2 separate regions of the Homo sapiens genome follow, and region 2 is linked to region 1. A link means that fine-mapping ties the variant in region 1 to the expression of a gene that starts in the linked region. Tissue or cell type: sigmoid colon. Region 1 holds a variant in brackets; the other region holds the start of a gene. All regions are shown on one strand. Distances are from middle to middle.

What was found. PIP is the estimated chance that this variant, and not a neighbour inherited with it, causes the effect.
Region 2: SOX11 starts here. The variant in region 1 is fine-mapped to the expression of SOX11 in sigmoid colon (GTEx, PIP above 0.99).

Annotation. Positions count from the first base shown.
Region 1 is chr2:5,538,476-5,541,314 of GRCh38, forward strand. LOC107985842 (a long non-coding RNA gene) reads left to right here and starts at 1,625. Exons shown (of 4, transcript XR_001739261.2): 1 at 1,625-1,824. The variant G/T (reference allele first, on the strand shown) is at 1,657.
Region 2 is chr2:5,690,937-5,693,657 of GRCh38, forward strand. SOX11 (SRY-box transcription factor 11) reads left to right here and starts at 1,448. Exons shown (of 1, transcript NM_003108.4): 1 at 1,448-2,721. The coding sequence starts at 1,786. It overlaps LINC01248 (long intergenic non-protein coding RNA 1248), which reads right to left and starts at 182. Exons shown (of 5, transcript NR_110580.1): 1 at 39-182. LOC124908052 (a long non-coding RNA gene) reads right to left here and starts at 27. Exons shown (of 2, transcript XR_007088653.1): 1 at 1-27.

The DNA of each region.
Region 1 (2,839 bases):
CACACATGGCATCACGGTTCATGTGTGCTCACTCACAGACAGTGTGGGAAAGCCTGGTGCTTCAGTGATTAATTGGGGTTCCAAGATAGGTCTTGGGACATGATAATTCTTTATGGGAAATGGGATTAAAATTGGACACTTCTACAATTTTCCTTCTTTATAGTGAAAATTTCATTTTTCATTAGTTGGCCAAATAATTCCATGTGCAGTCATCCCTGAATTAATCTTGAATTAATTTTTAAATCTCCTGTCTTCTAATATAGAATTTGCTATAAGAAAACGCAGCACAGTCCATCTTTCATTAGACACGGGGTGAGGGGTCAGCAGACACCCTTGCTACACTGAAAATGAAGGCCCCACATCTGGCGCAGGCTGGCGTCTGGAAGGGAAATGCACAGCCGTGGTCTTGCTCGTCCTGCAGAAAACGTCGGCTTCAGAATGGCTGCAGGCTGAAACATGAACCAGGGCATCTGAGTGCCGGAATAGGCTGTTTGTGTATGGAGCTGGTTTATTAGCCAATGTGCAGGCCTGGAGCCCACAAGAAGTCTACCCTCCAGCTGATCTGTCACACACTTAACAAGCTGTGTATAATATAGCCCATCTCATGCAGAAGGGGGGACTCATTCCCTCAGGTATCAAAAGACCTGATACTTTTAGCATGGGGCATGCTCTGGTTTTGAGGGTTTGCCTCATTACAAGCCGCAGGCTCTTTGAAATCAGAGGAAGAAAGCACACAGACCCATTACATTTTACTCCTGAGCTCTGCTGGGGGAAGGACTTGCTGCTCTTTGTACACTTCTTCGTCCATGTCTGGACATAGCCTCATGCGTTTCTTTTTTCATGCTTCACCTAACAATGAACATTCAATAAAAATTCCAAGGCTACCCAAATCGCAGCAGAAGAGGGTGTGGGAGTGAACTTGAGGTGTGCCGTGGGGTCTGGCCCTCAGCAATTTAAACAGAGCAGCTTTCCAAACTCAGCAGAGCACACATCAGAGTGTGTTTAGTTCATCTGGGCTGGTGAGTTCCAGTGATGAAAGCCTGGTGCTAATGGAGGCGAGGTCACCGGTTCAATCCTCATAGGACCCAGTTCACTTACAAGAGAAAAAACACTACTCAAGAACCAGAGACACCTCCTGACCCCAGTCACTGACCACAAGAAGGATGGGGTGAAAACGATGGCTGACCCAGGGCAAAACCATCTGATAAACAACTCAGACAGCACACCCCCAACCCCCAGCAGGAGAAGCCAGCACCTTCTAGTTTAAGGATTTTATAAAACCGCTTTTATAAAAATCCCTGCGGACAAGTTCACAGTAGCTGACTCCCCAAGATGAGACGTGCTGCTTTAGGTAACCTTTGGGTCCTTTCTGCTTGGGAAATTCCTTTGTCCCCTTTAGTTCACCCCAGAAGGGCCCCAGTGTGTTGCACCGGGAGGAGATTTAGCCTCCCGGGGGCCAGGGTCAGGGGAGGGAGCTGTGGGACGCAGAACCTGCCTGCTCTGCAGGTCTGAAGGAGAGACTGTTGAACTTCACAGACTTCCGGAAAAACAGGCGGTGAGGGAGGTGGAGGGGAGGCGGGGAGGGGGCTGCTGTGTTTATCCAAGTGCTCCAGCGGCTGCGGGAGTTTTCTGCTTGTGTTTATATTTTCAGAAGGG[G/T]GCTGAAGAGCTATGCCCAGACTGGAGCACGAGTCTGCTTGCTGGTGTGTTTCTCAGTCCAGTTTGATTTTTTAAAGGTACCCTCCATGGGACAGAACTCTGCTTACAAACTTTAAAACTGGATGATGCAAAAATTACCTGCACAGCAGAGGAGGACAACGAACCATAGTAAGTTTAAGTGATGGATTCTTTAATCTATCATTAATTTGTACAGATAAGTCAAAGAAAGGTAGTAGCAGATACGGAGCCCTCGCCGTGTACGCAACGCTTGACATCCTTTCTCACTGAGTCCCCACAGTAGACCTAGTGCTGCCATTTTGCAGGTGAGAAAACTGAAATGCCATATACGGTAGAGATGGGAGTCGAAACTCCTACTTCCTTTTGATAAATCCAGGATTCTTGCCTTAGTAAAATGGACTGTTTTTTGATTGCTGTTTTTTGCTTGTTTGTTTTGCCTTAAAACGCAATATAAATATATAGAGTTAGCTCTCCATTGTTACTTCTTTATAATTGAGATCAATAAGTACATTATTATAAAAATTAGGAGAAACAATACACTGATATAAACAATTACAATGTCTCTGTTGTTTTTAAATAAAAAAAAAAAAAACTGATTTTGCTTTTATCCATAACAGAAAAGGTAAGTTTGTGGGCTGGCTTCTTAGAAAAGACTCAGAATGGTTTACATAAATGTGTCCTTTGAAATGCCTAAGTGCAATAATCAAAGAAAATCGAAAATTAAATTTCCATATGAAAACTGATCCAGTCAACTAAAATTACTGCAAAGCTAAGGCATCCATCATTACTTTGAGCAAAGGGCTAGTGCCCCCAAACCCACGTATGATTTTATACACCCATAGCTCCATATTCGGGGATTTGGCTCAGCTGGTGGGTGCACGTGGCAATAAAGAGGCCAGCCAACTCCACAGAGAGCTGCCAGGTTAACCCTGGGCTGTGGGCAGAGCTAATAAAAAACAGGCACACCAGCCCAAACCCCAGACACACACAAAACCCAGCCTCAACTATTTTAATGTTTTCTTTCTTCTATTTATTTTTCCTGTTTTTTTCCTTTCTCCTTGTAAGAGTCCTCAGAAATCTTTTTCCAGTTCCGTTCCAGAGGAAAAGAAGACATTATAAAAATTAAAAAGGACAGTTGAGGTTTACAGATAAGCTTATCTTTGAG
Region 2 (2,721 bases), 150 kb after region 1:
GGGGGTGTGGAGAAGGCGAGGGTGGCGACAGACCATACCTATGAAGCGGTGATTTTCTTTAATTGCCCCCAGAATATCCGTAGAGGTAGTAGGGACTCAATAAAGAAACACAAAGGAGACGAACACGGCACGATCGCCGGGGTCCGCGGCTGCTCTGCGAGGCCCAGCGCGCCCCAGGTCGCGGCTCCCCGGCCGCCAGCGCACCTTTCCATCTCCAGGGAAAATATTTAGACGGGAAACTCGAGTGCACCTTATTTTCTCTTTGGTTTATGAGTGACCCAGAAGGCTTCTAGCTCACAATCGCACGATTTCAGGACGAGGCTGCCGGAGAAGCGCTGGCGACCGAGGATGGGGGAAGGACAAAGAGGAAGAGGAGGCCTGGGAAGGAGAAAGGAGCGGCGGAGGGGCGGGGAGAGGACGGGGCGGGGAGAGGAGGGGCGGGGAGCAGAGGGAGAAGGGAAGGAGGGCGCCGGGCCCCTCGCAGGGACGCCGGGCGGGGCGCGGGCTTGCTGGAGCCTGCGGGACCCAGAGCCCGCTCCGGAGCCAGCCCTGGGAGTGGCCAGCTTGAACCCGAGGGCCCCGCAGACCGTTACTCCGGCCCCCGCCCGGGGCGGGGCGCGCGGGGGCGCGGCGCAGCCCAACCCGCACAGCCGCGTCCCCAAACACCACCGAGGAGGGAAAACAGACGGAGAAAAAGGACAAAACAGAAAAATGCAAAACGGGGGAGGGAGCTCACCGCCTCTCGAGCTTTAAATTGATTTCTTTGCCTTACAAAAAGGGAGAAAGGGAAAAGGAGAGCAGAGCCCACGTGCCGGGAAGGTTGCTGTCTTCAAGCGCCACCTTCCGTCGGCCAGGGCCGCCGCGGGGCTACCGGGCGGGCTCGGGGCGGCGACCCGGGGGAGCGGCCGAGCCCCGCGAGGGGCTCGCCGGGGAGCAGCTGCGCCCACCCCGGGGCAGGCCGGGCGCGGCTGACCGCGAGCCGGGCGGAGGCCGCCGTCTCAGGCTGGGCGCGTGCCCGAGTGTGTGCACCCGGGGAGTGAGCGCGCGCCGTCCGCTGTCGCCGTCGGGCCTCCCGGGGACTGGGCACAAAGGCGCGCGGGGCCTCTCCCGGGACCCGGTCCTCGGTTAGCGCCGGCGCCCGAACCATCCCGGTTCGCCCCGGGCCGCCCGCTCCCCGTGGTGCCGCGCGCCGCTTCCGAGCATCCCGGGAACAGGCGCATCTGTGCACACACGCGGATTTTTTAAAAATAACATATTTCTAGACATGCCTCCTCTCCCCCCACCCCCATCTTTGCAAAGCAGCCCGGAGGGCGGGGTGGAGGGGCGGGGCCTCCGAGTTAATAAAGGAAGATGGGCGGAGCCGGCCCCCAGCCATTGGCTAGCTGGGGGAGTGATGTCACCCATATGACACCCTGATAACTAGTTGAGAGAGAGACCTCAACTTTTTGCAGAAGGAGCGCGCGCGCCTGGGAGAGCTCGGGGTCCGGCGCTTGCGGTAGGAGCCACGAGCCGGAGAGAGGGGTCCCGGGCTGCCTCGACCGCCGTCGCCACCGCCTCTCCTGTCGCGACCGCAGCTCCCACCGCGCCGGCGGCCGTCGTCGCCGAAGCCACCACAGCCGCTGTGTGCAGCCTGGAAGGGGGGGCGGGGGGGAGGGGGGGAGCCGCGAAAGCGGGGTGCCGAGGACTTTGCAACTTGCCCAGGAAGGTGGAGGGGTGGGAGGGGGAGGGGGACCTCCGCACGAGACCCAGCGGCCCGGGTTGGAGCGTCCAGCCCTGCAGCGGATCATGGTGCAGCAGGCGGAGAGCTTGGAAGCGGAGAGCAACCTGCCCCGGGAGGCGCTGGACACGGAGGAGGGCGAATTCATGGCTTGCAGCCCGGTGGCCCTGGACGAGAGCGACCCAGACTGGTGCAAGACGGCGTCGGGCCACATCAAGCGGCCGATGAACGCGTTCATGGTATGGTCCAAGATCGAACGCAGGAAGATCATGGAGCAGTCTCCGGACATGCACAACGCCGAGATCTCCAAGAGGCTGGGCAAGCGCTGGAAAATGCTGAAGGACAGCGAGAAGATCCCGTTCATCCGGGAGGCGGAGCGGCTGCGGCTCAAGCACATGGCCGACTACCCCGACTACAAGTACCGGCCCCGGAAAAAGCCCAAAATGGACCCCTCGGCCAAGCCCAGCGCCAGCCAGAGCCCAGAGAAGAGCGCGGCCGGCGGCGGCGGCGGGAGCGCGGGCGGAGGCGCGGGCGGTGCCAAGACCTCCAAGGGCTCCAGCAAGAAATGCGGCAAGCTCAAGGCCCCCGCGGCCGCGGGCGCCAAGGCGGGCGCGGGCAAGGCGGCCCAGTCCGGGGACTACGGGGGCGCGGGCGACGACTACGTGCTGGGCAGCCTGCGCGTGAGCGGCTCGGGCGGCGGCGGCGCGGGCAAGACGGTCAAGTGCGTGTTTCTGGATGAGGACGACGACGACGACGACGACGACGACGAGCTGCAGCTGCAGATCAAACAGGAGCCGGACGAGGAGGACGAGGAACCACCGCACCAGCAGCTCCTGCAGCCGCCGGGGCAGCAGCCGTCGCAGCTGCTGAGACGCTACAACGTCGCCAAAGTGCCCGCCAGCCCTACGCTGAGCAGCTCGGCGGAGTCCCCCGAGGGAGCGAGCCTCTACGACGAGGTGCGGGCCGGCGCGACCTCGGGCGCCGGGGGCGGCAGCCGCCTCTAC